Homo sapiens: one gene and its partner. The gene in region 1 interacts genetically with each later gene. Each region holds a gene or a part of one and is shown on either strand. Other genes may lie near its edges. The genes, in order: APOOL and TRNAU1AP.

Region 1 (3,822 bases):
TTAAGATAATGCACTTTGGGGACTTGGGAATACTGGGAGGGGGTAAGGGACAAAATACTGCACACTGGAGACAGTGTAAACTGCTCAGGTGACAGGTGCACCAAAATCTCAGAAATCACCACTAAAGAACTCACCCATTTAACCTAAAACCACCTGTTCCTGAAAATCTATTAAAATTTTTTTTAAATGGGCAAAATATCTGAACAGATACTTCATCAAAGATACACAGATGACAAATAAGCGTATGAAAAGATGCTTAACAGCATATCATTGGAGAATTACAAATTAAAACAACAATGATATACCACTGTATACCTACTAGCAGGGTGAAAATCTGAAACATTGACGACGGTAAATGCTGGGGAGAACATGGAGAAACAGGAAGTCTCATTCATTGCTAGTAGGAATGCAAAATGATACAGCCACTTAGAAGGGTAGCTTGACAGCACTATTCACAATAGCAAAGATATGGAATCAACCCAAATGTTCACCAATAACAGATTGGATTAAAAAAATTGGTACATATACACCATGGAATACTATGCAGCCATAAAAAGAAATGAGATCATGTCTTTTGCATGAACATGGATGGAGCTGTAGGCTATTATCCTTAGCAAGTAAACGCAGGAACAGAAAACCAAATACCACATGTTCTTACTTATAAGTGGGAGCTAAATGATGAGAACTTAAATGATGAGAACTTACAAACACAAAGAAGGAAACCACAGACACCTGAGGGTAATGGGTGGGAGCAAGGAGAGGAGCAGAAAAGACAACTACTGGGTAATGAGCTTAACAGCTGGGTGATGAAATAATCTGCACAACAAATGCCCATGATACGAGTTTACCTGTGTAACAAATCTTCACATGTACACCTGAACCTAAAATAGAAGTTGAAAAAAAAAGTAAATAAATAAATAAAAGTAAAAGGCTCATTCACCATGATCAGTAAGTTTTATCCCAGAGATGCAAGGATGGTTCAACATATCCAAATCAATAAACATGATACACCACATTAATAGAATGAAAGACAAAAACAACATGATCATTTCAATGAATGTGGAAAAAGCATTTGGCAAAATTCAACATCCTTTTGTGATAAAAACTCTCAACAAATTAATTATCCAAGATATGTACCTCAACATAATAAAAGCCATATATGATAAGGCCACAACTAATATCATACCCAATGGTGAAAAGCTAAAAGCTTTTCCTCTAAGATCAGGAACAAGTCTCTTGCCACTTTTATTTAACATAGCACTGGAAGTTCTAGTCAAAGCAATCAGGCAAGAGAAAGAAATGAAAGACATACAAATTGGAAAAGAAGAAGTAAAATTGTCTCTTCTCCCAGATTACATGATATTATACATAGAAGATCTTAAATACGCCACCAAAAAACTGTTAGAACTAATAAATAAACTCAGGGAACTGCAGCATACAAAGTCAACATACAAAAAAGCAGTTACATTTCTATACACTATCGAAGATGATCTACCCAAAAAAGAAAGAAAGAAAGCAATCCCATTTAAAATAGCATCAGAAAGAATAAAACACTTAAGAATAAACTTAACCCAAGAGGTCAAAGAGCTGTATATTGAAAACTATCAAACCATAATGGAAAAAATTGAAGATACAAATGAATGGCAAGATATCCTATGTTCATGAATTGGAAGAATTAATGTTGTTAAAATATCCATACTACCCAAAGCAATCCACAGATTCAATTCTAGTGGCATTTTTCACAGACATAGAAAAAATAAACAATTGCAAAATTTGTATGGAATCACAAAAGACTCTGAATAGCCAAAGTAGGTGTACAACCAAAGCAAATGAAATCAGCAATTGCAAAGATATCTGCACTCCCATATTCACTGCAGTATTATTCACAACAGCCAAAACATGAAAACAACCTAAGTGTCTAATCGAAGTGTCTGCCAACAGATCAACGGATGAAGAAACTGTGGTATACACACACACACACACACACACACACACACACACACACAACGGGTTATCATTCAACCATAAAAAAAAGAAAGAAATCCTGTCATTTACAACAACATGGATAACCCTCAAGGGTATTATGCTGAGTGAAGTAAGTCAGACAGAGAAAGACAAACTGCCTGATTTTATTTGTACGTGGAATTTTGAGAAGTTGAACTCACTGAACTAGAGAATAGAATGCTGGTTCCCACAGGCAAAGGTAAAGGAAAGGCGAGAGGTTGGGAGGTTGGCCAAAGGGCACAAACTTTCAATGACAGGTAAGTTCAAGGGATATAATACACAGCATGGTGAAGTGATACATATAAACTAATTTGATTCTGGTAATCATTCCACAAAATATATGTATATCAAATCATCACACTGCACACCTTAAAATCAAACCATTTTATTTATCAGTTATACCTCAATAAAGCTGGGGAAAAAAAGAAAAAAAAATACATAAACCCAGAGGGTCTTATAGCTACCTATTCCCTGGGGACATCTTGAATTTACCATTCCCTAGAACGTCTTAATAGCTAAAATCATAAATTCAGCAAGTTTTTCTCTGAGTGCAACCTCCTATCATTACAGTTTCGATTTCCTTACTGATCTATTTCAGTTCTTACAGGTAAAGTTACCTACCTTAGAAGACTTTTAGTGAGAATTAAATGAAATAATGAGTATCAACAGCTTAGCGCAGTACCTGATACACAGTAAGTCCTCAATAAATCATAGACAAATTTTGATTTTAAGTATGCATTAAAAACAAATTATCTGCCAATACCCAAATTGTCTTCAAACTCACTCTCAACCTCTGGCATTAAATGAAACTTGGCTTTTATTTGACACTACTATTATACATTCCTCCCAATCCACTTAATTGAAGGCCAGACCCCCAGGAATTCCCCGATTCCAGAAGACCCGAGAGATCAGCACAGTCCTTGCTTCTCAAGCACCATGATCTCCACAAATCTTAGCCATTTCTAACACAGTTACCCTACTTTGCAATTATTAGAAATCGTTTCACCTTCAAGATCCTAAATGCTTGAAATTTCCCTCATTAAAATAGAATGCTCTTTCAACTCTCCTACTCTTTTTGAACTAGTTCTTCTTTCTCACTATGGCCATAAATCTTCTAGTACCCTAGTCCATCACTTCAATCTTCTTCTTTGTCTCCTTATCCACAGTGGATGACTATTTGGATAAATTCCCTAGATCTTCTATCATTCTCACTTTGACAACACTCAGCATTGGAGCAACCCCACTGTCTCCTCTTCCCCTCCTATGCTGTGAGCACTGCTGGAGAAAGTCACTACTAGAGCCAACATTAGCCAGGCCCTCACTTCTCAGCAATTATTAATATTTTATTCAATGTCTACTGATACTTTACTGAATTTCCTAAAGCACCTTTTCCAAGCCTATCCCATTCTTAAACTCCTAAAGGCATATTTTCCTCTCAGCAGATGACCTTCCACCCAGAAGATACAGACCTCCAATGTGAGCTCCCTCCTCTACCTCCTCCGTTCTTCAAAATCACTTGGTATCTTCACCTTCTATCTCGACCAACTCTGGCCTTTGAAGCAAAGTGTGTCTCCTCTTTGCAAGGTTAATCCCTCCACTTGTTCTCTTGATTTTACCACTTTCTTACAAAGTATGGTTAAGAGTCCAGGTTCAGGACTCATACCATGTGATTTCAGATCCAGCTCTACCACTTTACTCCTGTGTGACCTTGGAGTTACTTGACCTTTTTAAGCTTCTGTTTCCCTACCTGTAAAAAGTGATTAATATAAATTCCTACTCATAGGGCCAATGTGAAACATAAATGAGAGAATCCACATA
Region 2 (3,822 bases), on another chromosome or scaffold:
GGCCGAGGCGGGCAGATCACCTGAGGTCGGGAGTTCAAGACCAGCCTGACCAATATGGAGAAACCCCATCTCTACTGAAAATACAAAATTAGCTGGGCATGGTGGCGCATGCCTGTAATTCCAGCTACTTGGGAGGCTGAGGCAGGAGAATCGCTTGAATCTGGGAGGTGGAGGCAGGAGAATCGCTTGAACCCAGGAGGTGGAGGTTGCAGTGAGCCAAGATTGCGTCATTGCACTCCAGCCTGGGCAACAAGAGCAAAACTCGGTCTCAGAAAAAAAAAACAGATCATACATTCTGCATTCATTTGTTTACTTGTGGTGTTTTGCATAGTCTATCTCTAAAATTTCCTGGAACTGGTTATTAGATCTAAAGTCTTGATGGGATTGCATAATACAATTTTGACAAGAGTATTCACACATGATAAAATGCATAAATGAATGTTTACTAAATGAGTCTGGGGCCAGGTGCCTTGGCTCATGCCTGTAATCCCGGAACTTTGGGAGGCCGAAGTGGGTGGATCTCCTGAGGTCAGGAGTTCAAGATCAGCCTGGCCAACATGGCAAAATCCCATCTCTACTAAAAATACAAAAATTAGCCAGGCATGGTGGTGGGTACCTGTAATTCCAAGTGTTCATGAGGCTGAGGCAGGATAATTGCTTGAACCTGAGAGGCAGAGGTTATAGTGAGCTGAGATCGAGATGATATCCGTCTCATAAATAAATAAATAAATACAGATAAACGAATCTTGGACTGGCCCAGATGGACAATCCTTATATTCAGGCTTGTAAATTAGGTCTGAGCTGGGGTATGGCAGGGAACAAAAACAGTGTTGGCTCAGATTAGAAAAACATTTCTTTCTCCCTTCAAGGCCAAGACCCATCTTGAGCCTTTTTTTTTTTTTTTTTAAAACAGTCTCAAACCAGCCTGTTGCTCAGGCTGGAGCAGTGTGGCATGATCTCAGCTCACTGCAACCTCCACCTCCTGGGTTACAGCAATTCTCCCCCTCAGTCTCCCGAGTAAGCTGGGACTACAGGTGTGCGCCGCCATGCCCAGCCAATTTTTGTATTTTTAGTAGAGATGGTGTTTCAGCATGTTGTCCAGGCTGGTCTCCTGACCTTCAGTGATCCACCTGCCTTGGCCTCCCAAACTGTTGGGATTATATGCGTGAGCCATCACGCCTGGCCTCATCTTGAGCCATTTTATCTTTAACCATTTTCTTTCTCTATTTGCTTTTTTTCCAGGATCCCAGCTGGCTACTGCTTTGTAGAATTTGCAGATTTGGCCACAGCTGAGAAGTGTTTGCATAAAATTAATGGGAAACCCCTTCCAGGAGCCACACCTGTAAGGACATTTAGATAATGATGATGTTGCCATTATTATTGTCATTGCTTACTACCATCTATTGAATCCCTACTGTATACTTATTTTATTTAATCCTAAAACAACCCTTTACAGTAGGCATTGTTATCTTTGTAGGCCCAGGAAACTGAAGCTCAGGGAATTGAAATAACTTGTCCAAGGCAACACAGGTAGTAAATGGCAGAGCCAGGATTCAGACTGAAGATTGGTTGCCTCCCAAATCCATGCCTTTCCATTCTGCATTGCTGCCTCCCATAACCGAAGACTTGAAACTCTAGACCTCTTGCCTGATTGGGAAACTAGAATAGGCTGGCAGCAGCAAGGACACATTTCAAGAGAGTTGCATTCTGCTCTTCCCACAGTTACTTAGCTTACAGCTGCACCAGCTGGCACACCTGGGCTCATAGAACCATGGAGCTGGCAGTGCCCTTAGCGGTCATCCGTGCAACCCCCTCATTTTATACAGGAGAAAAAGCTGAGGCTTAGAGAGGGGGAGATGTTTTGGCCAAGGTAATTTATTTCAGTTTTCTTCAAATATTGTTCAACTCTTGAAACACCTTTCTCTGTTTTAGTTTGTTTGTTTTTCAACTTCCAGGCGAAACGTTTTAAACTGAACTATGCCACTTACGGGAAACAACCAGATAACAGGTAGGTACAAAGTCATGTCTAGACAGACATAAGATGTGTCACTGTGCCTGTCACTGCCATATAGGAGGAGGGGAGCCGGTTTGGCTGCACTTGGTTCCCTCCTGAAGGACGACGCTCTTCTCCCTTCCTTGCTGGTGGACCTTCCTGGTGTGCTTCATGCAAGACCCTGGCTTTTCTGTATTTGGTCCCTGCCCCTGGCTTCCTACCCTGCTACTCCTCACAGTATTGAAGTTTTATTCAATAAGAATTGCCTTGTTAGCCAGGTGCAGTGGCTTACGCCTGTAATCCCAGCACTTTGGGAGGCCGAAACAGGCAGATTGCCTGAGCCTAGGAGTTCAAGAATAGCCTGGGCAACATGGCAAAACCCTGTCTCTACAAAAAAATACAAAAATGGCCGGGTGTGGTGGCTCACTCCTATAATCCCAGCACTTTGGGAGGCCAAGGCGGGCGGATCACGAGGTCAGGAGATCGAGACCATCCTGGCTAACACGGTGAAACCCCGTCTCTACTAAAAATACAACAAATTAGCCGGGCGTGGTGGCAGGCGCCTGTAGTCCCAGCTACTCAGGAGGCTGAGGCAGGAGGCTCACCTGAGCCCAGGGAGGGCTACAATGATCAAGGCTACTGTGAGCCATGATCGTGCCACTGCACTCCAGCCTGGGCAACAGAGTGAGACCCTGTCTTAAAAAAGAAACCCAATGAATTGACCTGTTATAGCAACATAAATTGATTGGAATTTCAGGTTGCCATTTGAAAGCATTAAAACGGTGTACCAAAAGCTTAAAAAACATTTATATGCATTAACCCTATAATTCTACTTTTCAGTATTTATTCATGGACGTGTGCAAAGATTAGCCTCAGATGTATTCATTGAAGTATTGTGTATAATAGCTAAAGTTGGGGAAAACCCAAATAACCTAATAGTAGGGAAGTGATTAAATTATGGTCATTAGTTAGGATGCGGTGTATCCACTGACAAGTCATTGCAGTATACTGACATGTCAAGATATTGGCAATATGTTGAAAATGAAAAAAAATACTAGAAACAAAATACGATGGATCGTATTTATGAACATTTAGAAGAAAAGCCACAAGAAAAGACAAAAGTATACATATCAAAGCATTTATTGTGATTGTCTTCAAGTGGTTGAGTTATAGCAATTTTATTTTTCTTTGCACTTTTGTGTTTTTTTTTTTTTGGAGACGGAGTCTCACTCTGTTGCCCAGGCTGGCGTGCAGTGGCACGATCTCTGCTCACTGCAAGCTCCGCCTCCCGGGTTCATGCCGTTCTCCTGCCTCACCCTCCCGAGTAGCTGGGACTACAGGTGCCTGCCACCACGCCTGGCTAAATTTTTTGTATTTTTAGTAGAGACAGGGTTTCACCGTGTTAGCCAGGATGGTCTCGATCTCCTGACCTCGTGATCTGCCCACCTCAGCCTCCCGAAGTGCTGGGATTACAGGCGTGAGCCATCGTGCCTGGACTGTGCTTTTGTGTATTCTTTTTTTTTTTTTTTTGAGATGGAGTCTCACTCTGTTGCCCAAGCTGGAGTGCAGTGGCATGATCTTGGCTCACTGCAATCTTTGCCGCCTGGGTCCAAGCAATTCTCCTGCCTCAGCCTCCCAAGTAGCTGGGATTACAGGCACCTGCCAATGCGCCCAGCTAATTTTTATATTTTTAGTAGAGATGGGGTTTCACCATCTTGGTCAGGCTGGTTTTGAACTCTTGACCTTGTGATCCACCTGCTTCGGTCTCCCAAAGTGCTGGGATTACAGGCATGAGCCACTGCGCCTGGCCTTGTGTATTCTTATTATAC

The links.
Region 2: changes in APOOL (region 1) and TRNAU1AP together harm fitness more than expected from each alone (negative genetic interaction), as found in Homo sapiens cells (one large-scale study listed by BioGRID).

Annotation. Positions count from the first base shown.
Region 1 is NC_000023.11:85,006,720-85,010,541, reverse strand, and holds part of APOOL (MICOS complex subunit MIC27 precursor), read right to left. Parts: intron 1-3,822. UniProt on the Homo sapiens protein: Component of the MICOS complex, a large protein complex of the mitochondrial inner membrane that plays crucial roles in the maintenance of crista junctions, inner membrane architecture, and formation of contact sites to the outer membrane.
Region 2 is NC_000001.11:28,559,391-28,563,212, forward strand, and holds part of TRNAU1AP (tRNA selenocysteine 1-associated protein 1), read left to right. Parts: intron 1-1,242; coding exon 1,243-1,342; intron 1,343-1,722; exon of another isoform or gene 1,723-1,870; intron 1,871-1,955; coding exon 1,956-2,008; intron 2,009-3,822. UniProt on the Homo sapiens protein: Involved in the early steps of selenocysteine biosynthesis and tRNA(Sec) charging to the later steps resulting in the cotranslational incorporation of selenocysteine into selenoproteins. Stabilizes the SECISBP2, EEFSEC and tRNA(Sec) complex.